4 linked regions of the Homo sapiens genome follow. The protein of the gene in region 1 purifies or fractionates together with the protein of each later gene. This does not show direct contact. Each region holds a gene or a part of one and is shown in the gene's direction. Other genes may lie near its edges. The genes, in order: OR51E2, DSG4, CALML3 and HEPHL1.

The links.
Region 2: the proteins of OR51E2 (region 1) and DSG4 purify together in Homo sapiens (affinity purification with mass spectrometry; 3 studies listed by BioGRID and IntAct, with this or other methods). This does not show direct contact.
Region 3: the proteins of OR51E2 (region 1) and CALML3 purify together in Homo sapiens (affinity purification with mass spectrometry; 2 studies listed by BioGRID and IntAct, with this or other methods). This does not show direct contact.
Region 4: the proteins of OR51E2 (region 1) and HEPHL1 purify together in Homo sapiens (affinity purification with mass spectrometry; 3 studies listed by BioGRID and IntAct, with this or other methods). This does not show direct contact.

What each region holds. Positions count from the first base shown.
Region 1 is NC_000011.10:4,694,851-4,701,769, reverse strand, and holds the start of OR51E2 (olfactory receptor 51E2), read left to right. Parts: upstream 1-3,916; 5' UTR 3,917-4,108; coding exon of another isoform or gene 4,109-4,117; intron 4,118-6,919. Other genes in the region: olfactory receptor OR51C1, read left to right, coding at 4,109-4,117. UniProt on the Homo sapiens protein: Olfactory receptor. Activated by the odorant, beta-ionone, a synthetic terpenoid. The activity of this receptor is probably mediated by G-proteins leading to the elevation of intracellular Ca(2+), cAMP and activation of the protein kinases PKA and MAPK3/MAPK1.
Region 2 is NC_000018.10:31,400,773-31,407,801, forward strand, and holds part of DSG4 (desmoglein-4 isoform 2 preproprotein), read left to right. Parts: intron 1-108; coding exon 109-248; intron 249-2,643; coding exon 2,644-2,862; intron 2,863-5,304; coding exon 5,305-5,601; intron 5,602-7,029.
Region 3 is NC_000010.11:5,520,772-5,527,291, forward strand, and holds CALML3 (calmodulin-like protein 3), read left to right. Parts: upstream 1-4,189; 5' UTR 4,190-4,314; coding exon 4,315-4,764; 3' UTR 4,765-6,000; downstream 6,001-6,520. UniProt on the Homo sapiens protein: May function as a specific light chain of unconventional myosin-10 (MYO10), also enhances MYO10 translation, possibly by acting as a chaperone for the emerging MYO10 heavy chain protein.
Region 4 is NC_000011.10:94,016,900-94,024,365, forward strand, and holds the start of HEPHL1 (ferroxidase HEPHL1 precursor), read left to right. Parts: upstream 1-4,454; 5' UTR 4,455-4,469; coding exon 4,470-4,639; intron 4,640-7,466. UniProt on the Homo sapiens protein: Is a copper-binding glycoprotein with ferroxidase activity. It oxidizes Fe(2+) to Fe(3+) without releasing radical oxygen species. May be involved in the regulation of intracellular iron content.

The sequences.
Region 1 (6,919 bases):
AATATTAGGAATAGCTAGAAGTTCACAGGGAGAGGTAAGGAGGAGTGACATTTCTATATACACCAAAATTGAATGGTCAGTGTTAGCCATATCAACGGGGTAGGAAAACTGCTAAATCCAACATGGCTGGATCCAGGAAAAGAGGTGAGTGAGGCTTTCATCAGACCATGGAGGGCTAGTAGGCCATATGGAGTTCTAATAATTTTTCTGAACAGTAGTATAAACAAAATGGTTTTTGACTTAGTGTCTTAATCTATTTCCTCTTGCTATAACAGAATACCAAATACTAGGTAATTTGTGAAGGAAAGAAGTATATTTAGCTCACAGTTCTGGAGGCTAGGAAATTCAAAAGCATGGTGCCAGCCTCTGGAGAGAGGTTTTGTGCTGCCATTACATGGTGGAGGGCATCACATGGCAAAAGGGCAAGGGCATTTGTGTCAGCCCAGATCTCTTTTTCTTCTTATAAATCCACCAGTCCCATCATGATGACCTTATCTGATCCAACTTATCTCCCAAAGTCTTCATATCTAATCAAGATATGACTTTGGGAATTAAATTTCCAACATGGGAGACATATTCAAACAGTAACACACAGCAACCCGTTTTCGTTGCTGTTGTTATTGTTTGTTCTCTTTTAAGTTTATTTCTACAATTTCAATGCATTAACCCTGGATTACCTGTTTTGCCTCTGGCCTCTTGCTCCTGTATCAAACCCTGTTTCTTTTATATCTTAAACTGTTTGCTCCTTGTGCTAGTCTTAGCCCTGAAACTTGTTTTTCTATTTCCTGATCAAGCATGACCATCCACTTGAGCTGGTATATGCACAAATTTTAAAGGTTGCATAACATCCCAGGACTCGATATAAATGCTTTATATATTCTGTATCATTGAGAATTTTTATCTATATTTTTTACCACTGTAAATAATGGGGCAATAAATTTTCCTGTACATAAAATATGGCCTGCATCTCTGATATCTTCCTTTCAATAAATTCTTAGAAATGGAATATTATGGACATTTTAAGACAACAATATACTGGAAAATATGCTTCCAGAAAGTTCATGCAAACATTGTAAAACAATGCTTAGTCCACTGTAACACAGCAACACAACACTATGTATTATGTGTTTTAAAAAACATTTGCTGATTTGATAGCCAAGAATATTTTACTGTTTACCGTAGTAAATGTTGACAGTCAATAAATAAGACTTACTTCAAGTTCCTAGTGCAGAGTTTTCCTATGTCCAATTTGGTACTTCCTGTTTGGATTACCAAGTTTCAGAAACATTAATATGAAGTCAAATGACATCACAGACTATGATATGTTTCCTGGACTCAATGGAGTTAATATTAATGTATTAATAAGATGTGTTGCTGTATGATTTCATGGAGGAACATTGAACTCAAATTTTCAGAAAGTTTAGTTAAATTACCAGCTACTGTTCTGCTAGGCTGGCATGAGAATAGGGCAGTGAGAAGAGCCATATTTTGACGTAGTGTGCCAGTGTGTGTATTGGTGCTTTAACCAGTACACACACTAGTTTCATTTTCATGTACTAAGCTCTGGCACAGAATTTACATGGTACCACTATAGTAACTTTATTTTTCTTATAAGAGTAACATTCTTTCAACCATAAGAATAAAAATATGTGACTATTCCCAAATAGTTTCTGAGACTAATGGGAAAAGAGTCACAGCCCTACAATTTGCCCAACTTGGTAGAGAAAGTGTTTTCAAAGGTCTCAAGAAGTTTCCTGTGCGGAAACACAACAATAAAATACCTTTATGTGCAAGGAATAAGCATGCACAAGTGACAACCTGTTAACATTCAGTTTGGCACATCAGCATGCATGCAGGCTTTTGGGTGTAGATGACTCAAATTGAAAGTAGTGGTGAATGGATAGTCATGTGAAGACTGTTTAGAAAATGAGTTTTGAAAACTGAGAGGGTGTCAGATAGCCGAGGCTTTGAATACTACTTGTGCCATTTATAACTGAGAAACTTAGGTAAGTTACTTACACTCTAATTTTTGGTTTAAACATGGTTTAAGACATAAATCAAACTAATAATGGATTCTTCTACTGAATTTATTATTGTAGAGTTGTGTAAGTCAAAAGTTGACATGGATCTCACTGAGCTAAAATCAAGGAATCACCAGGCTGCATTTCTTTATGGAGGGGCTAGGGAAAAATCAATTATCTTCTTTTCTCCTTCTGGAGGCTTTCCACATTCCTTGGCTTGTAGCCTCCTTCTGCCATCTTCAAAGCCAGCAACAGTGGATCAAATCCTTCTCATGCTGCCATCTCTCTGGTTCTCTACTTTTAAAGACCCGTGTGACTATATTGGATCCACCCAGCTAATCCATCTAATCTTGCCATCTCAAGTTATTTAACTTTAATCACATCTGCAAAGTCCCTTTGCAATGTAAGGTGACATATTCACAGGTTCCAGGCATTAAGACATAGGTATCTTTAGGGGCCATTATCCTGTCTACCACAAACACTTGGCCTAGTATCATGGATGTAGAATGCATAATAAAATATTATTGTTCTTGTTATTTATTGTTTTTATTACATTATGAAGAAGAAAATATCTCAGGCCATGACATTTTCAGTAGTGAAACAGATTTGATAGTGGAGAGGAGATAATATCGGAAGCAGGGAGAATGGTTAGGAAACTACTGAAGTTACCCAAGTGAGAGATAATTGTGACTTAAATAAAGGTGACATTTCTGGAGATGATAAACAGTGATCAATTTCTGATTGTATTTTTCAAAGAGATTGACATAATTTACCAATGGATTAAATGCAGGGTGTAAGAGACAGAAACTGAGAATGAATCAAAGACCCATATGCCCAAGTGTGGTCCAAATTGGTGGGAATATCTAAGGATCTAAAGAGGCCATAAGGAGAAAAGATGGACAACTTATAGCAATCTATGCATTCTATTTATTAAAGACTAATGAGAGTGATAGTAAACTGACAGAAGGTGACATCATTGGCCAAGTCAATCACCCACCTACCTGCAATTTTTCTTGGTATAATACAAGATTTTCAAAATTTGACTATAAGTAGAGAGAACCCCAAATTATTGTGACTAATTCTCTTCAACCTGGTAGGTTGGGACTTCAAAATACGAAATAGGTCAAATTATAAAAAAGTAAATGAAACCGTATTTTATACACAAGTAAGTTGTGAACCAAGATTTTTACCTACTGTATTCACCAAGCATTTGGTTCATGCCTCTAGGATAACCTTATCATTGGTTAACATGTAATTATTGGTTAACCTGTCTATCTTCTACACTAAAATCCTAAACAGTAAGAATTATGGTGTATTCTTAAAAAAAAAAACTCTATCACTGAGTATAATGTTTAGAATATGGGACATTCTTATGAAATATTTACTGGATATATGTATGGATGAGTAAATGAATTATTTTTTATCTGTAAGAGAAAGACTGCTGCTGCAAAGAACCACAGGTGGGCTAATGAAACCATACTGCTGTGAATAATCATAGATACTGAGGAGTTAAGGGGTGGAGTTGGACTCTCACTCATAATGGGAGATGTCATTTAGCAATTTGCTACAATATTTCGTTTTTTAAAATCTCCTTCAGAGTGACTGCTAGTGATTATGAGGTTCCTTTTAAGGGTAATAAAAAATGTTCTAAAATTGAATTGTGATGATGGTTCTTGCACAGTTCTGTGACTTTACTAAAAAAAATTGAATCATACACTATAAATGGGTGAATTTTATAGTATGTGAATGATATAACAATAAAGCTGTTAAATAAAAAAGCTTTTGAGTGAAATGACACATGAAAAAAAGGTTACATCAGCCCATAAAGCACATAGCCACCGTAAGTAATTGCATAATGGAACAGATATAAAAGGACTGTATGAGGCAAAAGAAGTCTTCTGGGAATCTCCACACCCTGAAGACACAGTGAGTTAGCACCACCACCAGGAATTGGCCTTTCAGCTCTGTGCCTGTCTCCAGTCAGGCTGGAATAAGTCTCCTCATATTTGCAAGCTCGGCCCTCCCCTGGAATCTAAAGCCTCCTCAGCCTTCTGAGTCAGCCTGAAAGGAACAGGCCGAACTGCTGTATGGGCTCTGTAAGTAAAACTGTTTTGTTCAATGAAAATGCTTGACTCTAGATGAATTGGACTTTCTCACCCACAGGGAGTAATTTCCTCACAATGTGCAGAATTAGATTAGATGTTGGTATGGTGGGCTGAGGAGGACGGTAGAATTTCAGAATTATTTATTCCCAGGAAATACGTAGAGAATGGGTATTTCGTTCTGCCTGATATAGGTTAGATAACTTGTTTTTAGTCAAATGGTTTAATCAGTGTGCTGATATATTTATCACAGTCAGTGAATCTCATTTCTATGCCCAATAACTATTACTAAAAATGAAAAGTTACCAATTTCGAACGCATTGCCTGCCAGCTACTGGTATTAGACACAGCGCATATCCTGTCTTATAGATGAGGAAACTGGGTCACAGAAAGTTTATATTACTTGTAGATTTCAGTAAAACAATTGTTTTTGAGAGCACGAGCTTTGGAATTAAAAAGACCTGAGTTAAAAATTCAGCTCTGACTTTCACCAGTTGTATGTGATTTCAAATATGTTTCAGACTTCTGATACTCAGTGTCTTTACCAGAAAAATGAATTTAAAGTGAATCTAATAATACTTGTCACATGATGACATAGTAAGAATTAAAATAATGCTTATAAAGCACTGAGGACAATAATGTTCACAGAACACGTGTCCAGTAAATGGTAGCTATTTCTATGAGTAATATTTTTATTAATGGTGTAGATGGTCTCAAAACTAGTTAGTGTTTGAGCAAGAATCTGAACCCAGGTCAGTCACACATGATAGCCATACCATTGACAATAGCATGGAGAATACTGATGACACTATAAGGTCTAGTTCAGCAGATTAAGACAGCCACAAGCTATAGCTTATAATAGTGCAATGAAAGAGGAGCATCATTGTAATCCGAGTGGGCAGAAAAATTAGTTGAGAGAATATAGCTTATTTCACAAGAGAGAAAATGAAAGTATATATGGATTGGAGAGGATGGGTCGGAAAGATTCTAGAGTGAAGGCAGCACAAAAGAGAAGCTTGGGGGAAATTTAGTGCCTCCTTCTAAGGATATTCATTAGTCCCCCTCTTGTCTTGAATATAAACACTTAAGATTTTTTCAATGTAAGAAAAATGCAATGAAATAATAGCTGCAAATACCCACTACTAACAATTGCTTGGCCTTCTTATATAGACCTCCCGAGGTTCTCATCTTTTACATTTCAGGAGTAGAATCAGTTAAAAACTAATCTTTATATGTAAGGGATGAGAGAGAGAAAGAGGAGGGTATGTGTGTGCACACATGTGTGTGTGTGTGGTGGGTAGTAATTTTAATTCAATGATTTACTAGAGTTCGATGTCGTTTGCTGATAAATGAAGCAGGAGGAAGAGCCAGGTTTGGAGGGGACGAGAGAATGAGTTCCATTTGTCTCATATAGAAGTTGAAGTAACTGAGTGATGATGGGTAGAGATGTCCCTCAGGGGTAGCCACAGTATTTTATTTACTTTTTATTCACCACATGCAGCAAGGAGCTTTGTTCTCCAAAATGCTGTCAATTATTTTTCTAAATTACAGGTTTGATTGCTTCACTGTATTTTCATGTCTCATTACTACCTTTACGCTTAAAACCAGAAACTTTGCCACAGCGTTAAAGATTCTGCTAACTTTTAAAATACAGAACTCTGGAGATGCCATAATTAGATTGCAGATTTATGAGTCTTCTGGATATAAGTGCTATTTAAAGCCATGAGAATAACCAAGATATCTCAAGGAGAGCATATGAAAAGCAAGAAAAGAAGAGGTACTTCTTGGGAGAAAAGCAGACTCCTCTAGAATCCCACAATTTATAAGGCAGAGAACAAAACCATTGTTTAACAAACAGGAAAAAAAAAAACCTCACAGAATAACCATCACTGAAGCTAATGAAGGAGAAAGTTTCAAGGAGGAGGAGGTAAACATTGCTGAAAGTTGAGATGAGGGAGAGAAAAACAAATCTGAGATTAAACTTTTGGACTTGGCATGTAGAAAATCACGGGTGACATCATTTGGAGGATTTTCAGAGTCATTAGGGAAAGAATTCAGATTGTTACTGAAGGTGAAGGAATAATAAACAAAAGCAGACTGTTCTCCAAAGGAATTTTTATCCTTATAAAAGATACAGCAGGAAATTGAGAGAGAAACAGGGCTTATGTCTTGTATCCCTCACTATCAAAGCACAAGGCTAATTATGAAAACTATTCAATATATCCTGGTTGAAATGAATTGTTTGGAAATATCTATACAAAACTGTGGGAAGCTTTTATTGTTGAGTTAGAGTAAAACTTGAGTATTGCAGACTTCAAAAAAGCAACCAATGGCACTAAACAAGATACTAAAGAGGGAAAGGAATTTTGTTGGCATTAAATGAGAAGAGATGGAAAATGATTTATTTATTAAAAGCAAAGCTCCTTGCTTCCAGTGGTCAATAAAAGGTGAATAAAATGTTAGAAATGTCTGGCTCTTGATGCTCTGCAAAAATTTAAGTTCATTACACTGTCCATGGAATTCAAGATTTTCATGATTTGACCTCTGGTGCTTTCTCTAGCTTCATTTCCCACAGCACCTAGCCTCACATTTAAGACTTCGATATACCCCTTCTCTTGTAGTTATCCAACAAACTGGCTTATGTTATTCTTTCATTCATGTCTCTCCTCATTTTATCAACGGCACTGCAAAAGCACACTTCCCCTGTTTTTCATCCTTATAAACTCACATTTACCCATCAAAACTTCACACAGTTATAAAGCATACATTCTGTTAACATTCTTGGAACTAGTTCTT
Region 2 (7,029 bases), on another chromosome or scaffold:
AAAACATAAAAACACAATATTAAAGTTTGCCACATTGTAGCTGTTACATGATTTAAAAGTACTAACTTTCATAAAAGCATGATAACGAACTTTTTTATTTAAAAACAGATATATCATAGGGCATGATGCAGGCAGCTGGTTAAAAATTGATTCAAGAACTGGTGAGATACAATTTTCTAGAGAATTTGATAAGAAGTCAAAATATATTATCAATGGGATATACACAGCAGAGATCCTGGCTATAGATGGTAAGAAAATTTATTTTCAGTATTTTAAGAAAACTAGTACTATTATATTAAATATTATGTTATTCTAATGCTGATATTTGAGTGACTCAGACATTTTTAATGGTGTATGCAAGACTTATGGAAAGCCCTAAACACCTTAAATCAAGAATTGAAGTCAATTAAAATCATAATTTACACTGAAGCCATAGTTTATTTCATCTACTTCCAAAACTGAGTTGTATATGGCTTACAGCATAAAAGTTAAAATATAATTCATCTTCTGATTATGACTTTGTCTCTTGAGTATGGCTAATCTCACTTGTAGGGTATGTTGGGAATGTTTACTTAAAGTAAGGGCTACGTGCTCTACAAAGTTCATTTGGGGATCACCTTGTGGGAAAGCAATGTCTCCAAGAATACAATTATTTTAGATCCATTAAAACTGAACTACAGTGAGAAGCTTGTGTGAGTGTTGCTTGATTAGACATATTTCCATAGTAAGATGCTATGGACCAAGAAAGCACAGATTATTCCAAATATAAGATCCATATTAAAAGTCATAAATACAGATGCACTGACTTAACTTGTAAGCGAGCCACCTCTCACATGGGTAAATCTGTTAAGCAGTCCTCTTGGTGAGCAGCAACAGGATTTGTTTATTTATCAATAGTTAATGATTCTATGAAGCAGTGCCTAGGAAACCAGCTGCTGTAGAACCAAACAAGAGACAAAGGTCAGGAACCACGAAGGAAGGGGAAAGACAGGCGTCCAAGATACATGCCTAATGTAAGACAGATACTGTAGGTTTGCATTGAGTTTATAGCTGACCTTTCCAGTATCAAAACAAAAATAAAGATAAAGAAGCAGCATAAAATTCAAAAAGAAACCATGATAAAACCAAACCAACTATCATCTGTACATCCTGGGCTTCATCCTGTGGCGGGTAAATTTTAACGCCTGGGTCAGTTTTATAAATAACATTGTCTTATTCATTATCAGTATTCTGGAAGCTCTAATTTGAAAATGGATTCTAACCATGTTGATTGCACCCTATGTTTGCATATTGGTCATATGTGAAAAATCTTCAAATGCTAGAATAAATAATTAGTCATTCCAAGCAAATAAAGAGAGAGAAAGTGCTGTCAAAATGTACCAAGAGAAACCCAGAAACAAAGCTGATTGTTTATTCACCTAAGCAGAGTGTCTGCACTGGCACAGAGCTATCTGAATGGTTGGAATAAGTTTGCTTCAGCACACACCATCATCAGGTGAAGAGACAGACCTCTATGCAGAGCAAACTTTACTGGGAAGCAAACACTATAAGCAATAGCTTGAGCTTTGGTTGCCAATCACAAGGTAATAGAAGAGCTACCAAAGATCAAAGAATGACAAATAAAACAATCTGTGGAATAATCTGATGCCTCTCGAATGAGAAGCTAAGTGAAATCGACATCCTTCATCTAGTAAAAACAAGTCCAATGCTGAATAGGGTATATAAACATATTATACAAAATCATATAGACTATAGGTAGGCTCTCAGTTTATTCTCATTCAGTTACCTCAATGACTACTACTTAGGCACACAGAAAACATCTGTAAAAGGAATTTATTGCTTTCTCAGAAAAGGACCTAGTAAGGTACCCCAGAGACGACAACGTTCTAGTTTAAAAGCGAGAAAGCTAAGATTCTTTTCAAGTTAAAAAGAAGCAAAAAAAATTCCGTATTCGCTGTAACAGAACATAGAGTAGAAAAGTGGACTAAAAAGCTCCTGGACTCCTAATCTTTAGTCTTTGGCCCTTTCTGATTAATTATACTATCCAAAAACTTGTTTCAAGTGGATTAGGGAAAAATCTAATAGACTTATATTTGTTTTCAGAAATGCCATTTCAGAAAGAAATAGCATGTAACAGATGCAATTAAAATAAACAGTGAGCACACAAGAAAAACACAAACAAGTATTTATTTCAGCTGTGGTTATTTCTACAAACACAGGACTCAGTGAGCATCCTGAATGGAGGTTCATAACTGACCTGGGGGTCTAATTTATGGGAACAGGGTGAGATTAGAAACCAGTAAACCTTCTCGGAGGAAGAACATTTGATTTTGCGCCTTAGGATGTGTCAGAATTAGCAAAATGAAATGAGGGTGGAAAACATTTTAGGAAGGGTGAAAAGAATGTGCCAGAGTCCAGAGTAAAAAAGAAACTTGTTTAAAGAACTCAAAAGAAGCAGTGTGGCTGGAAGGTAGCACACAAAGGGAAGAGTGACTTTGGGTCACTGAAGCGGGCAGGAACCTGTCAAGCCTCCCAAGTCACGTATATGTTTCCTACAAGTTCCATGGCATCATCAGGGGATATGAGAAAGAGTTTTCTCCCTAACACCATTTACCTCAACACCAATGACCCTTACTCTTTCAGATGGCTCTGGAAAAACAGCTACAGGAACCATATGTATTGAGGTTCCTGATATCAATGATTATTGTCCAAACATTTTTCCTGAAAGAAGAACCATCTGCATTGACTCTCCATCAGTCCTTATCTCTGTTAATGAACATTCTTATGGGTCTCCGTTTACTTTCTGTGTTGTTGATGAGCCACCAGGAATAGCTGACATGTGGGATGTCAGATCAACAAATGGTAAGTGAAACGTAAGCTTGTTTTTTGGACTTTAAGTCCAAAAGCAAAACAATTACCAAAAAATGTGGCAAGTCACTTAATAAAACATTCTACTTCTGTTTCCACAGTTCTTGCCATATTAACATTAAATGAAAAAAATATTTCATGTACACAGAGGATATTTGATAAAATTTTGAACTGAAATGAAATGAGTCAAAATGTTTCATTAATATTTAATTTACAAATAGTAGTGGATAAATACCAGTTTACCCATCATTTTGAGTAGGTAAAACGTTGAACCAATATTTATTCAGTTTAAAATAAACAGAACCCTTAACAAACTCATAAATTAAGAATGTCACAATTCCCTATTCTGAATAAATTCAGACAAATCACATAAATGTCTCTGAAACTCATATATCCCATAGATACATTTAAACATTTACTACTCACTTAGGAGCACATAAAATCAATTAAATTGTTTTTTACAGTAACTATGAGTTCAGACTTATTTTTAAGGGTAAAAATTTAAATCCAAATTGCTCAGTATTAGAGGAATGATTAAACAGAGTACATATTATTAAGATGTGTTAATATACAGCCATTAAAATTAGAATTATGCAAAGTATGTAGATACAAAAGAATGCATAAACCAAAGAAAGTAAAGTGAAAAACAGATCACGAAGTTGTATATGTATGTATCTTGACTATAACTACATACAATTGAATGGCTGACATCGATAAAAATTAAGAATAAATTTCAGATAACATAACATTTTATCTACCTTGCGTTCTTTTTCCTAAAACGTTAAGTGCATAATAAAAAAGAAAATGCTATGAGAGGATCTCATATGGGCTAAGATAGCTCCCCAATCTCATATTCATTTGGGGCTACAGGGAAAATTTCATGGGCTAGTCGGTGGCCATCAGACTACAGAGCCCAGGGTGAGAGGAAATACTTCCCACCTCTTTAAGGTCACCAAGCCCCTCTATTTACAGAATGGAGAAACCCTAAAATAAGGTGGGGAAAATACCACCAATAAAGTAAGAAATTAGGCAATTTGTTTTTACCATCAAACCTTTAGCTCTTTTCAACAAAACCACTTTAATATTTTTTAAAGTTAATCATGTTAAAGCAATTCCATTAATATCAAGTCAACTCTGAATTCACCATCTCCTATAAAGCTCAATAGCCCATTCATAAACAATAATAATTGCTAACCACTTTTTTCCTCATTCGGATCCTAGATATTATGATTACACATGTAAGAAAAAATGTTCTGCATGGAGGTATAATATTATAGCTATTACAGGTTTGCCAATAAAAAATATAACCACACTGGAGATGATATTCCTAGAGACCTGTTTCAATGCTTGCTGGTGTTTTAGAACAGAATGAATTTCACTTAATGTGCTGTGGCATTGCCTTATCTCATTTTTACCTTGTGCACAGGTTAGATTTTGGTGGACATAGCTGGCTTGCCATCTAGCTAACTGAGGATAATAAACCATCATAATAAAAAATATTGTGTGCTATGGATCAATCAGTTACTATTCATGGTTTAGCTGTAAATTTAATCATCTCAACACTCCTTGTATTAATAAATAAATTCCAATGAATATTTTAGACAATATGTTTTATGAAAATTCATAGGCAATGATAGCACAAAGAATTAGGAGAATGTGAACAATTTTAAATGAAAGGGCAACAATTTTGAGTAAGATACATATAAACAGTCTTAAGGAGGGTATTGTGTAAACTGTAATCCTAAATAGAAGACTTCTAATATTTTCTTTCAGCTCAATATTATTTATTCATTGGGCAAATATTTATTGAATGTATATTATATGCCAATTACTGTTGCTCTGGAAAGATGCAGCAAGGTCCTTGCCTGCATTATAGAAGTAGCAATCCAGCAGTAAGCAATACTTATTTAAAAATTAGTTATAAATGTTAAAAAAAAAAAGAAAGAAAGAAAAGTAAAAAAGGCCAGGCAGAATGGCTCATGCTTGTAATCCAAGCACTTTAAGAGGCCAAGGCAGGTGGATTGCTGGAGCCCAGGAGTTCAAGACCACCCTGGGCAATATGGCAAAACCCTGTCTCTACTAAATGTATATATATTAGCCAGGCATGGTGCCACACACCTGTAGTCCCAGCTTCTCAGGAGACTGAGGTGGGAGAATCACTTAAACCTAGGAATCCAAGGCTGCAGTGAGTCATGTTCGTGCCACTGCACTCCAGCCTGGGCAATAGGAATGAGACTCTGTCTCAAAAATAACAAGAATAATAATAATAATAATAAATTAAATAAATGTTAAAAAAAAGTACAAGGTGCTTTATGACTAAGAAAGCATGAAAAATCTAGTGTTTTAAGTCAATATTTGGTATTAGGGAGAGTTAACCACCCCCCTAGCCCACCAAGGAATTTCCATTTATTTTCTGTTTCCTCTCTTCCATTTCAGCTACCTCGGCAATCCTTACGGCTAAGCAGGTTTTATCTCCAGGATTTTATGAAATCCCAATCCTGGTGAAGGACAGCTATAACAGAGCATGTGAATTGGCACAAATGGTGCAGTTATATGCCTGTGATTGCGATGACAACCACATGTGCCTGGACTCTGGTGCCGCGGGCATCTACACAGAGGACATAACTGGTGACACGTATGGGCCTGTCACTGAAGACCAAGCTGGAGTTTCAAATGTTGGTCTTGGACCAGCAGGGATTGGCATGATGGTTCTGGGCATCCTGCTACTGATTTGTAAGTACTCAATTAAATCCTTCTTTTCAATAGTTCTTCAAAATAGGGCTGTTACGAGGCTCGCTGGGATGGTTAGGTTCATGGAGCCATTTCTTTTTGGTATCTCTAGCAATTTTTGAGTGCCTTAGAAATAAACAATGGGACTGACAAATATATGCGCTTAATCCACAATGATAACTAAGAAAGCCTAGGGTGAGTGACAGTCCTAAAAATGGGAAACACATGCAAATCACTACATATACTACCTAAAAGCACAAAACAAATCCCATCATGGAAATTTCCTTAAAATGCTTTAAGAGTAGAGAGGCAGAAGCAATTAAGTCCATGTGGAAAAGTTAGGACAATCTTTTGGAAAAGTGGATTTTGAGGTGAGCCTGAAAAGCTGAGGATTTTTTTTTTCTTTTTTTCTTTTTCTTTTTTTTGAGATGGAATCTTGCTCTATTGCCCAGGCTGGAGTGCAGTGGCGCAACCTCGGCTCACTGCAACTTCTGCCTCCCAGGTTCAAATGATTCTCCTGCCTCAGCCTCCCGAGTAGCTGGGACTACAGGCGCCCACCACCACGACTGGCTAATTTTTGTACTTTTAGTAGAGACGGGGTTTCACCATGATAGCCAGGATGGTCTTGAACTCCTGACCTCGTGGTCCACCTGCCTTGGGCTCCCAAAGTGCTGGGATTACAGGCATGAGCCACTGCACCCTGCTGAGGATTTCTTTTAAAGGAGGATGATGTCTAAGGAAATTTGAAAGGTAATCAAACACACACACACAAAAAAAAACCACACACACAAACAAAAGGGAGCAAGATATGGAAGAGCATAGCACACCTAGGAAGCAGAGAGGCAAAAGGGAGTCTGGGAGCCAGCATGGAGGCATGTTCATGACACACCAGGCATTCTGGGCTTCAGTACAATGGCACAGAAGAGTTGATGAGGGCTGATGAGCGCAGGTGACCCTGCGGTAGGAAGCAAGTAGAAGAGACTAGAACAGAGAATTAGCCTCTGGGCTCTGGGTGAGTGCCTAAACTAAGACTGGTCACAGAAGTGGAAAGATCACCAAACAAAAATTTCCCAAAAAGGGCCCTCCTTTCCCCATAGAGTTTTTTTAAACATATAGATCCTCAGAGGAAGAATACTTCATACATTTTAGGTTGCCCTTGCAATATTTAGGTTTCATGGGGATCAAAAGCTGGGTTCTAAAATTAAAGAGAAGTAAATTTGTCAAACTGTATTGTTGCTGTTTTCAGGGATGAGCACTAATTAAAATGTAATCATTTCAAGGCATAAAAAATAACAGCTGACTTTTGGTGAGGATTTCTTTTTTGAAATAATCTGTGAGGTTTCAAAGCTATGCAAAGATCATGAGTGATTCTCACAATGATATTAGACACATTTTCCCAGAATATAACTCTACAGCAATTGAGTAGTGGTT
Region 3 (6,520 bases), on another chromosome or scaffold:
AAGCCCCAGTGTGTGTTGTGTTCATGTGTTCTCATCATTTAACTCCCACTTATAAGTGAGAACACGCAGTATCTGGTTCCTGCATTAGTTTGAAAGAATAATGGACTCCAGCTCCATCTCTGTCCCTGCAAAGGACATGATCTCGTTCTTTCTTATGGCTGCATAGTATTCCATGGTGTATACGTACCACACTTTCTTTATCAGTCTATCATTGATGGGCATTTGGTTAATTCTATGACTTTGTTATTATGAACAGTGCTGCAATGAACATACGCGTGCATGTGTCTTTATAATAGAGCAATTTATATTTCTTTGGGTATGTACCCAGTAATGGGATTGCTGAAAAATATGGTTTTATGTGAACAAGTAATGGGTTTATTTCTATTAAGTTATAAATATATAAAAATATACTTAAATATTTAAATATTTCTTGGTTTTAGTTGCAAACACAGTATATATATATATATATATATATCCCACATAAACACAAGCTCTTTGGAGTCCCCAATAATTTTTAAATGTTTAAATGTATCCTGAGACCAAAATAATATCTATTCTGTAGGGAAAGGAGTTGCTATATTGGGGTGAGAGGCTGCAGGGAGAGAGTTAAACAGAAAATAAAAAACATTCCCTCTGTCACAGTTTCCCAACCAGCGAGTTGCAACAGTATGGCCCATCGTAAGGCGGTCCTGGTCCTCTGTGAGTCACTTTGCACTAAGCAACGCTGTTTAAAATTCTGAGTCCTCTTTTTTTTTGAGACAGGGTCTTGCTCTGTCTCCCAGGCTGGAGTGCAGTGGCACGATCTTGGCTCACTGCAACCTCTCCCTCCCTGGTTCAAGTGATTCTTCTGCCTCAGCCTCCCAAGTAGCTGTAGCTGGGATTACAGGCACCACCCACCATGCCTGGCCAATTTTTGTACTTTTAGTAGAGACCTTTAGTAGAGGTTTCACCATGTCAGCCAGGCTGGTCTCGAACTCCTGACCTCAAGTTCAGGCCTGCCTCGGCCTCCCAAAGTGGTAGGATTATGGGTGTGAGCCACTGCACCTGGCACTGAGTCCTCTTTCAGTGTGCCTTTTTGAGAAGGACATTTAGGTAAAAGCTAATGTTTGAGCCACAGAGCCATGACCCAGAAACCAGCAGTTACCTGTTGGCTTCTCATCCTGGTCGTTGGTCAAGTGGGCAGGAGGTATGACCGTATTCCTGTCCTTGTCCATCAGGGCACTGTCTCAGGCCAGGTTTCCCCCTGATGCCATCCGGGGCTCTCCAGAAGACTGTGTCAGCCACATGTCCGAATCCCTTGGTGCTCCTGTCTCCTGTGACTGTCCCTGTATTCCTTCATGAAGAAGTCTCTCCAGCCCCTAGGCAGGGAAAGTAGAAGAAAAATGCTTCATAGCATCTTTTCCACTAGATGGTCACTCTGGCAGTCAAATAGGGGGTGTGGTTATTGGCTATTAATTATTCTGCTTTTCTATACATAATAATAGCTATGCTCACCATAGTCTCATATCTCTGAGAGATATAAAGCTGACAATATTACCAGGCCCTCCACATTACCTAACCTCAGAGAAAGAGAAAGAATATTGGGAGTTCAGTAAGATATGGAATATTTTTTATCAGGGATGGTTTTTGAATCTTCAGTCATTTCCCCTAATAATAGAAATGATATATGGCAAATATAAAACATTTTTAAATGAGCAAAGATACTACATTTATAAGAAAATTAAAAGCACTTATAATCCTATTATCCAAAGTATCCACTATTAAGAGTTTGGTACATGATTATCTAGGCGTTTCTTCTGTGAATGTATATAAATAAACATATATAAATGTTTAATACATGAAATCATATCACATATACAGTTTTCTATCTGCTTTTTAAAAATTTTCCATGGAAACCTTTCCATTGTTATATCCTCATCCTCATTTTAAAGGCTGTGTATTATTTCATGGTGTGGAGGAAATTTCAGGTATTTGTTACTAACCTGCTATTTTTGGGTATTCGGGTGATCTAGAGCGGAGATATTTAAATATTTTTAAAGTGCGTTTGGGATATGAATTCTAACACTCAGGCATCAGGCACCAGTGTACAATCAAGAGCCCTTCTCAGAAGGTGACAGAAGGTCCCCATGTCCCAGAATTAGCCCCCAAAAAACCCCAAAATAAAAAAGGGACCTTGATCCCCAGCTGAACTTTTCATGGGGTGACCTTGAGCAAGCTGTGTGTGCAGCCTTTGCTGGGTCTCCCCACCACAAAAGAGATCTCCAGAATATTCGAGGAAGGGCGGGGCTCCCAGGAGCAAAGCACACACTCTTTCTTGCGCAGCCCCCTGTGGACAGAGCTGTAACCTGGGCCCAGGGCATGCTCCCAGCCTGCAAATGGAGATGCTGCCTCATTTTTCTCTCTAAATCTAAACTTTATTATCAGCCCCTCTCCTACCCCAGGGAGTCCTGGCCAGCCCATCTCCCCACTCCCCTAGAGCTGTTGGGGTGTGAGGTCTCAGGCAAGGCCGAATATTCTGGGGTGAGAAAGGAGGGGAGGGTGGGATCTGGTCACCAAAGTGTCACCCACACACGTGGCTTCCAAGATGCCCATCACCTCGTTCCCTCCACGCCACCCCTGGGCCCCAGGGCTCTTTGCCAAGGCTGCCTGTGGCCACCACATCCCTGAGCCCTGCTGCTCTGGGGTCCACAAACTTCTCTTCTAAGGAAAAGATTCCATGGGGATGGAGGGATTCTTCAACCTTCCTGCTTCCTCCTGCCCAAACCCTCAGGACACAGGCTTTGTGGGAGCCCTCAGGTAGGAAGGAAGGTGTCTTGCAGGTGGCTTCAATTTTCCCCCTACCACAGACCCCCTCCAGACCAGAAGGACACACTTGCCTCTACTTGAATAGAGAAGGGAAGGAAAATCAGAGAGAAAAAAAATGAATATCCGAGCCCTTCTCCTGCCATAGTCTCTCCTCGGCAAGTCCAGGTCCTCAAAAGGACACTTTCTTTCCCTTTCCGGTCTCTACCCCACCCCCACACACCCAGCAAAAAATAGAGTGGGCTCCATGTTTCTCCCCCAGTGTGGATTTCTTGGATTCCCACAGGTGAAGCGCCTGCTCCTGCCTCTCTGGGGGTCATGTCTCCAGGCCCCCTGGGAGTGGGAGCCGAGTCTGTGCTGTGAACACCCCACTATCCCCCTAAGCGGGTCTCCTCTGGGAGAGGCCGCTCCACAGCCCCAGCTCCATGCTGCCCGGAGCTCCTGGGGCAATGTGGACCAGAGAATGATAGTGGGACTTCCTGGCTGAGCCCTTCAAGGTCTCCTTTGTCTCTCCTCCTTGTCCCCTCCCTCACAGGCCTGCAGCCCCACTGATCATCTTCCAGCCCTTGGCCCTGCCATGGCCACTCCGGCCTAGACAGCTGCTTCTCAGCAGGAGGTCTGTCCTTGACCAGGCTGAAAGGTGACCTCGGGGTCCTGTCCATCACCACCTTGTATGTCCATCAGCATTTATCAATAATCCCTAGTCACCTTGTTTGCATTCCTCGATCAGTTGACCTGCAAACTAGCTGTCTTGCTAGTTAACCTCACGAGGACTGGGGGTGGCTTGCCGGTCCCACTGTGTTCCCAGCTTCCAGAGTGACACTGCACCTAGTAGGCACTCAAATATCTGTGAAAGGGTGGATGAGTGAATGGGTTGGAGGAAACCCCTCCCTATTCATGTCCATTCTGAAGATAAGAAAACTCGCTGCTTCTACCTGAAGGGAAAACCTTCCTCCTCCAAAAACCCTCCTGTTCTATATGAGGCTTTAGAAACCAAAGGCAAGGACGTTTCTTTCATCTGCCTTTCATCCTGCAAAAAGCCCTCCACTCAAGGGAAGAAAGGGCACTGGAGTTTATTGAGTGGGAGACAGGCGGCAGGTGGGAGACGGGGAGGGAGGAGAGAAAGGGAAATTCAGGAGGAAGGAGTCCAGCGTGGATTGCTCCAAAGCTCACCCACCACGCCCTGACTGCAGGTGTGATTCGGGGCCCCCGTGGCTCTGCTGGGTCCAGGTGCAAGCAGGCACAGAGGTGCTGGCGTCAGCTCGATTCGCAGGCCCTGGACTCCTGTCTAAACAGGACAGGCCCGGGCAACCGCAGGGCAGGGGCGTCTGCCAATGATGGGGGAGGACTCTGCTGCTTCTTAAGCTCCAGCGTCTCAAGCCAGGGCGAGACAGCCCGCCGGCCGCCCGGATCTCCACCTGCCACCCCAGAGCTGGGACAGCAGCCGGGCTGCGGCACTGGGAGGGAGACCCCACAGTGGCCTCTTCTGCCACCCACGCCCCCACCCCTGGCATGGCCGACCAGCTGACTGAGGAGCAGGTCACAGAATTCAAGGAGGCCTTCTCCCTGTTTGACAAGGATGGGGACGGCTGCATCACCACCCGCGAGCTGGGCACGGTCATGCGGTCCCTGGGCCAGAACCCCACGGAGGCCGAGCTGCGGGACATGATGAGTGAGATCGACCGGGACGGCAACGGCACCGTGGACTTCCCCGAGTTCCTGGGCATGATGGCCAGGAAGATGAAGGACACGGACAACGAGGAGGAGATCCGCGAGGCCTTCCGCGTGTTCGACAAGGACGGCAACGGCTTCGTCAGCGCCGCCGAGCTGCGACACGTCATGACCCGGCTGGGGGAGAAGCTGAGTGACGAGGAGGTGGACGAGATGATCCGGGCCGCGGACACGGACGGAGACGGACAGGTGAACTACGAGGAGTTTGTCCGTGTGCTGGTGTCCAAGTGAGGCCGGCGCCCACCATGCTCCTGGGCGCCCACGCGGCCCACAGGGCAAGAACCCGGGGCCTCCCGCCTCCTCCCCCATCCCCCTGCCTCCCCTGGGCACTGTGGCTTCCTCCTGCGCCTGGTTGATTCAGCCCACCTCTCTGCATCCCGCTTCCCGCGTCTCTTCTCTGCACTCCTGCCGACCTTCCCACCTGCTCGTCTGAATGACACGGAACGCTCCCACTGCAGGCAAACCGTGACGCCCTCCCCACTCGGGAGAAGCAGAGCTGACCTTAGGACCGAGCACCAGGGCAGGTTGCGCTGACTCTGCGGCCCTCCAGGACGGACACCGGGTGACCCCTTAGGGCACCCAGGCAAGATCCCTAAGAGGCACCCAATGCCCAGGCCAGGGGGGCTGCAGCCCTCAGCCCCCGCCAGGATTCCCGCAGGCTCCTGGACTGGAAGCTCCCTCCGCGGTCGGATTCTGGAGGGTGGGAGGCATCTTGGCCTGCAGTAAGCGGTGCTGACGGGGACTCTGGCCACAGAGGTCAGGCCTCCTGAAAACAGCACTGCCTTCCGCGCTGCCCCAGCTTGCCCCATTCCTTGTCCGCCAACCCACCGTGATTCATCTTCTGAAGCTGGGAGTGAAACTGGGTCAGCTGTAACCTGTTCCTATTCATCTGGAAGGAGGGAGGCTTGGATGAGCAGGGGATGAGAGCTGCAGGGAAATAAATGAGATATTCGTCCTTATTTCATTTCCTTTTTTTTTTTGGTTTCCATGGAAATGATCCTTGTTAAATTCAGGGTTGAAACGAGGCAGGAATCTCCATTTTTGTGCTTTTTGAAAATGCAATGAATTCCTATACGGGGGAGCGGGAAAGGTGCCTCAGAGAGAGACAAGTCTGGATGAGGGAAATATTGAATATTCTCAATCAAATGGATACGCTGGCAGCAAAGAGTGGTTAAAAGTCCATCAGGACTTGAAAGACCTGAGTCCATTACGTTGAGAAGGGACCTGCTGATTGCTTTGATTCCCCCTGGCAAGTGCTCCCTGGTTGTGAAGTGCCAGGCACTAGAGATGGTGAGGGGTTGGGGGGCAGTTGGGCACACACAGTGTAAGAGCAATTCAGAGCCGTTAGTCCTGCACTAGCCCTGCAAGCTGCTGGCAACACCTAGAGAAGGTCGAAGGGGCCCTGCCAGAGATCCCTTCAATTCTAAAGGGAGGTATGTTTTGCGGGATGGGCACTAGACGGAGCTCATCAGAAAAGGCCATGGTGGATGTATCCTCTCTCCCTGACACCCCACCCCCGCCCACCAACACCCAGTGTTTCCTCCTTTGTAAAACAAAGAGCTGGGCCCCAGCCCCGGCCTTGCCATCATCACTGCACCACTGGGACCTCCAGGATGACAGGACCCTCATGCCACCTGCTTGGGCTCAGGGCACCATCAAGCACTTGGCCTGCATAGACAATTGGCACCTCCCTATGGGGCAGCCACTATTATTACCTTCCTCATCTTACAAACGAGGAAGTGGAGACACAGAGGGCTTTAGAAAGCAGCCCTGGGTCCCACCAGTGGGTAAGAGGCAGACCTGGGATTTCAGTCAGGTCTGTGCCCTGACCACTCAGCTACAGGTCTGACACCAACCTGTGCCTCCATCATGGTAACTACGGTAGCGCCTCTCTCCAGCACTTGTGAGGAGCCAGAACAACATTCTTAACACACCTGGCATGTAGTAGGTGCTTAATAATGGCAGCTACTGTTACCATCACCTTCAA
Region 4 (7,466 bases), about 89 Mb from region 1:
AATGAATGTTGTTTTCATGTCTGCTAACACAACATCCATTCCGTATGTCATAGATCAAGGAGTAACTGAATTTCAATCTTATTACTTGAGAAATACCTTTCTTGAGGCTATAGGTGCCATAGATAGTGATTCCTCTGATGAATCTGGGCAAAGTAAATTGAAAACCTTCTGGAAATAATTCACCATTCTAAATGCTGTTAAGAATATTTGTGATTCATGAGAGAAGGTCAAAATATCAACATTGACAGGAGTTTGGAAGAAGCTGATTCAAACCCTCATGGATGACTTTGAGAGGTTCAAGACTTCAATGGAGGAAGTAACTGCAGATGTGGTGGAAGCAGCAAGTGAACTACAATTAGAAGTGGAGCCTGAAGATGTGACTGAATTGTTGCAATCTCATAATAAAATTTACATGAATAAGGTGTTGCTTCTTATGGATGAACAAAGCAAGTGGTTTCTTGAAATGGAATTTACTGGTGAAGATGCTGTGAATATTGTAGAAATGACAACAAAGGATTCAGCATATTACATAAACTTAGTTGATAAAGCAGGAGCAGGGTTGGGAAAATTTATTCCAATTTTGAAAGAAGTTCTTTTATTGGTAAAATACTATTAAACAGCATCATGGGTTATAGAGTAATCTTTCATGAAAGGAAACCAAATGATGTGTCAAACTATTGTTCTTATTTTAAGAAGTTGCCACAGCCACCTCAACCTTCAGTGACCACCATCCTGATTAGTCAGCAGCCATCCACATTGAGGCAAGACCCTCCACAGCAAAAAGACTGACTCACTGAAGACTCAGGTGATTGTTAGCATTTTTAAACAATAAGGTATTTTTAAATTAAGGTGTGTACATTTTTTAGACATAATGCAATTGCACACACACTTATAGACTGTAATATTGTGTAAACATAACTTTTTTTTTTTTTTAGATAGGGTCTCCTTCTGTCAGTGAGGCTGGAGTGCAGTGGCATGATCTTAACATACTACAGCCTCGACCTCTTGGGCTCAAATGATCCCCCCACCTCAGCCTCCTGAGTAGCGGGGACTATAGGTGCACCCCACCATGCTTGGCTAATTTTTTTGTATTTTTTATGGTGACAAGTTTTGCCATGTTGCCCAGGCTGGTCTCAAACTTCTGGCCTCAAGTGATCCTCTCACCTTGGCCTCCCAAAGTGCTGGGATTACAGGTGTGAGCCACTGTACATGGCCTAAGCATAAGTTTTATACGCACTGGAAAACCAAAAAATCCATGTGATTCGCTTTATTTTGATATTCACTTTATCATGGTGGTCTGGAACCACACCTGCAATATCTTCAAGGTGTGCCTGTACCATAATTTCAATAAAATGTGATTTAACCCAGCATTATCTTTCTCTGCTATTGATGCATGATGTCAAATTTACCTTATCTGAAACCTGGTGAATGTTTTGAGGAATGGAGTGAATATTTAGAACTGGCCATCTCACATAATAAATGCTTGATAAATGGGTTTCTTGACTTTAAAAAAATGTCTGACTAGTGTTCAATGGAGTTGGAAGTATTTGCTAACATTATTACTTACACAGGTTACTTAATCAAATTTTAAACATTGTCAAACATATCTTGTATGTAACTGTGGGTTTTTAAAAATGAGTGTTGATATGATAATTCACAGGTTTCCTAATAAAATTTAGACACTGTCAAACACATTGGGCGTGGAACTGTCGCTTTTCTGAAATGAGTGTCACAGGAACACTGCATTGTCTCATACCAGTTTATTTTCTTTAGCTCCTATGGCATTCCAATGCTCTTTGAGTAACACCTTTATTGTCCTAGGATAAGGAAGAATTTAAGAGAGCTTTCCAGAACCCTATTTCATTGTTTTTAATAAATTCTTTCCCACTTTTGGCCCTCTGTAAGCAAGTTCTCTGCTACAAATAGATTAAATGCGTTGACTTCATCTGCTATAGTGACTCAGATTTCTTGACCTGATCTATTCTGCAGATCTAGTTTTTGAATCAGAAGTTAGGTAATGCCTTCTCCTGGGTTTTAATTATATGCGTTCAGTATCTTGGGTAAGAAAGTTAACTCTTTTGTCTTTTTGAGCTGTATCACTTATACCTTTTTTTTTCTCCTGTCCAAAAAGGGGGGAATATGTCCTAATAACGTCTTTGATACGCCCAAAATAGCCAGCTTCTCTGGGATGTAAGCAACAAGATATTTGGTTTGGGACATTTCCAAATTCCACAACCTTTTTTTTTTTTTTTTTTTTTTTTTTTTTTTTTTTTGTGAGACAGAGTCTCGCTCTATCATCCAGGCTAGAGTGCAGTTGTGAGATCTTGGCTCACTGCAACCTTTGCCTCCAGGGTTCAAGAGATTCTCCTGCCCCAGCCTCCCTAGTAGCTGGGACTACAGGCATGCACCAACATGCCCGGGTTATTTTTGTATTTTTAGTAGAGACAGGGTTTCACCATATTCGGCAGGCTGGTCTCGAACTCCTGACCTCAGGTGATCCACCCACCTCGGCCTCCCAAAGTGCTGAGATTATAGGCATTAGCCACTGCGCCTGGCCAGATTCCCCATACTTTGAACTCCCTACTTCTTCTGAGGCCAACCTCAGGCCTACCACGTAAGTCCTCCTCTATAGTGTCCGTTGAAGTGCCAGACTCATACGAAGCTCCCAAACTCATGTTGAAGAGGAGATTTTAGCTAAATGGAAATGTGCTGTGGCAATTATTCTACCAGTGTCCTTGATACAACAAACAAATCAGTAAATCAAAGTTGTAAAGAGCCTGGCTATGAAACAGGATACTCAGTATGTATTTTATTATTTATTTATTTATTTATTTACTTATTTTGAGAAGGAATCTTGCTCTTGTTGCCCAGGCTGGAGTGCAGTGGCACAATCTTGGCTCACTGCAACCTCCACCTCCCAGGTTCAAGCGATTCTTCTGCCTAAGCCTCCCAAGTAACTGGGATTACAGGCGCCTGCCACTACGCCCGGCTAATTTTTGTATTTTTAGTACAGACAGGGTTTCACCATGTTGGCCAGGCTGGTCTCAAACTCGTGACCACAGGTGATCTGACTGCCTTGGCCTCCCAAATTGCTGGGATTACAGACCTGAGCCACCGTGCCTGGCCTTTTATTAATTAAGATGAATGCTAATACAAACTGTGCTATGGGACATTTATAGGGTAGCTACCATTTAAAGAAAAAGAATTCTCTTACTTGAGACTGGTGGAAGGCATGGCAGATAGGACTTTGGCAAAGAATAGTGGAAAGAAAGTTGAAGACTGCGGGGAAACACAAGTCTGTGGATACACAGGTTGATACAGTCTCTCTTAGAGGGCATGAATGGGCAGGAAGGACTTTAACACTTACTTAGTACCTACCCTATGCTAGGGGCTGGGGTAAGCACTTTGCAGACATCATCTTTTAAAAAGTTCCTTAAGAATCCCTCAATCCTTCTTCTATAGTCTCCAGCTCAATGATGTTAAGTGATTCCTCCATGCCACTAAATTGGAAAGTGGTGGGAACTCACATTCAAACCCAGGTCTGACCAACTTCAAAGGCCAGGAGGCTGTTTCCTTCATTCCATGGCTGCTCCCTCAAGAGTAACTGTGCATGGGGATAAGAGTAACTCTTTTCCAAGGTTGATCAAGGTCTCTTTCAATACCGAGATTCTGGGACACAGATTAGAAGACACAGAAGAATGGCCCAGCCTTTTCCACCCAAAGACCTGTTACTGAATTTTGTCTCCATGTGTCTGAAGGGTACTTCCCCATCATCATTTTCATTCATCCTAAGAAAGGCGGCTCCCTGTGTGGAGGTGGTGGCCGCGAACATTTTGGCTGAACTGAGCAGTCAACCTTCTCATTTTTGCTGGAAGGATTTGAGAGAATATGGGGGAGATGGTACACGAGCCAGTGGAGGATTAGTGGGGTTTTATGTTGTTGTGATGAACTTTATGATGTTAGTTTGTGGTTTCACATAGCCTCATAAAACAAGCTGGATGGTGATTATGTCACTTCCTCTGCCCTCCCGACAGAGAGGAGGCCTTCTTTAGTGCCTGGAGTGTTTCCTGATGCTCCACTCAGGCCAGCTCACTTTTCAGATTTTAATGTAAGAGGTGTGGAGAAGAAAAGAAGAAGAAGGGGTGGGGGAAAGCCATCGGCTCAAGTAGTCACACTGTCATCCTGGCTGACAAATGACTGATGTCAGAGCATGGTACCGAAACGTATAGAAACAGGCCTGTTGGCTTGGGCAATACATAAATGAGCCAGTCACACATTTCTCGGATGGCTGGCAAAAGTTTTGTTGTCAAAGCAACGCCCCCATCGAGCTTGCTTTGCTTACGCAAGGCCTCAGCCTTTGCCTCTTCCCCAAACCCAAGCTACCTGAGGAGGAGGAGCTGAGTGAGGGGGAGGGACCAACAGATTTGTCCCCTGTGCAGGCTGCCTGCCTGCTTGAGTTACATCCACAAATGCCTCGGAAGCAGCCAGCTGGCTGCATCTTTCTCCTCACATTCCTGGGTCTGTCTGGGCTGGTTGGCACAGTTACCAGAACGTACTACATTGGGATTGTGGAAGAATACTGGAACTATGTACCCCAAGGGAAGAATGTTATTACTGGGAAAAGTTTCACAGAAGACAAGTGAGTGAACTTAGGGTCCTCATTGACTCCCAGGTTTGGCCTCTTTTTGACTTTGTGTGGGGAAGGTTGTATTTCTTGGGTACTTACAATGGGGGTGAGTTGATCTAGACCAAGAGAAGGTGTTTTGTTTTTTGCTTGAAGAGCCCTAGTATGGATGGGTGTGTAATCTGGAAGAGATATTCATAGCTCCATGTATTTGTTGAGCCACCTATTAATAGCCTTGCCTGTGAAGGGACATATACACAACCAGGTGTTTGACAATTTCCACCAGGTACTACTAGTAACTTCTGGGGGATTCTGTTTGTTTGTTTGTTTTTAAATGACAACACTTGGGATGAAGATTTGAGAAATTTCAAGAATTCCTTATGGTTAAAACACAGTGTTTTCTTAGTTTGTATTTCTGGAATGAAACATCATAATGGGAGATAAGTATGCTAAGTCATGTTTTTCAACGTTTAAAAGAGGGGGAAGTCACAGGAGATTTGCCTGCTATTTTCAGGGTTTCCTTGAGTCTACTTAGAATTAGCGCTTTCACTGGTAAAAAGTTTATTCCAGCTCCAAGTCATTCTTGCTGAGGGCAATATCTTATCCCAGAACCTATAGCATAGCTAGGTGAGATGGCGCCACGGTGTTCTATGTTCCTGATTTTTAATTTGGGGCAGAAAATAACCCTTTCTCCCTGCCCCCTCCAGGGCCTAGTATCTTAACCATCTAATTTGTTTCATGGATCTCCCTCTGAAGTCACCTCCTGACTCCAGAAGATGTCATGCTATTTTCAACTTTGTGGTTATTAGAACATCTTTTCAGATGTTTTGGCAACCTCTGTTGGATATTTGAATGCTTGCTTCTTTTCTGACAGGCAGAACCAGTTGCATTCTGCATCCATGTTCCATTTCCTAAAGATGAGTTTAGTTGATAAAATTCAGGAACAGCACAGGGCCTACCAGCAAGTCTTTAAGAGCCAGGGCCCCTTGTCTTTGAGGAAAGACCAAAGATCCAGTTGGCTTGGAAATACAGCTTCCAAGTTTTCTAACAAAACAAAGGTGGTATAGTCATGTTTTGTTTACCAAAGATGAAGCCTGTGCCAGACAAGCTGCCAAGGCAGACTTTTCCTTAAGCTTTGTACCTGGAAATGTAATGTCTGCAGGGCTATTTCCAAAGGAAACTCTTGATTGCTTTCAATCCCACATCTGCTGACCATTGGTGGTAGTGTCTTTACTGTGATGAATAGCTATGGGATTGAAAGGGTACCAAAAATGCCAGGAGCCTTCTCTACAAATAGAGCTCTGCTATTCTCAGAGAGGGCTCAGTAGGAAACAGTCAATGTGAGCAGCTACTGGGGATAAGAATGTTGAAAGTGTGTACACTGAGTGTAATGAATATAGCGTTTAAGCTAAATGTGATACTGGATTGCCTTTCCATAAGATTAACACCCACAGAAATTCTTCTTCCTAAAATGCCCACGTCACTATAGCTGTGTATGGGCATTTATTCTGACCCAAAAATTCTATGAGGGATTTTTCAATTCATTACTGCTTGCAGATATTATTATTCTCATTTTATGAACCAGGAACCAAGGCTCTGAGGTTAAATACTTGCCGGAGTTTATAAGTAAGTGGTAGCACCAAACTCATTGCTTTGGTTCCACAGCCCATATTTCTTTTCACCACACAATCTGTTTCTTGGTAAAGGTGATCCTTCTCCAGTGAATTAAAACAACTTTGAGGGAAGCCAAGGATCACAGTAATAAGAACTTTCTAGAAAGTCCTAATTTTTGCCAAAGGCATGTTTAGTCTCTTTTGTCACTCTTCCTAGAAGCATATTGAAAGGGATCACTGGTGGTCAGTGACCAAACAAGTTATCTGGGTTAATTCAAAACCTCAAAGAATCATAAATACTCAAGTACTACAATGCTGTTTTCACAAAGTGGGGTGCTGGAAGAAGTTGGGGTCTCTGTTGATCATTTCAACCAGAAGATGGTGCTTTGATGAAAGTACAATAAAACATATAAAAATTGCTATGGTGAAAAAGAAAATAGGCATGATGAAAACAGTTGGTTTGGCATCAGATTTGAGTGAGATGGTTTCAAAATGCATGGTCCCATATGATAGTGCGTTTGTTCTTAGAAGCAGCTGGCATGCTAAGGTGTCATACCTAGAACGCCAAGGTCCCCAAACATTTCTTTCTGGTATGCGAAGGGACAGAGTTTGTGTCAGACAGACTGCTACCTCTTGGAAGGGAAATCCAGGTGAGTATGCAGTGGACGTTGGCTTTTATCAGTGATCCCATCAGAATACTGGTTTTTATCAGTGATCCCATCAGTGCTAGTAGTTGTGGTAGGTGGCTCAGACAAGTTCCTAAAAAGGTAGGGCTGTCGTAGGTGGCTGACATTGCTTGTGGACCACAAGATATCCATCCTGGGTGTATGTGAAGATGCTGTGACTGGGACATAAGTGGAGTTCAGTGTGTGTACTCTGTGTTGTGCCATTTCCCCAGGAGCAGGAAGGAGCCATCGTGGATGATGTAATCATGCCCCTCTCTCAGCCTCCTGGAGGGTGAATAGGCTGCCTTTCTGAGGACAGTCTGTTGTTTTGGATATTCACACTTGGGCAAATGTCTGATATTTAAAGGACCAGGAGAGCCAGGTGCTCAGAATTCCACCATGAATGGAAAGAACCTGAAATAGAAATCCAGAGACCTAACTTCTAATGCTTGCTCTGCCCAACTTGCTGTGTAATCTTGAACATGTCATATAATCTCTCTGAATATCACTTTCCTTAATTTGTGTAAGAAGGGAGTTGAAATGTAATCCCTAGAGTCACTTGAG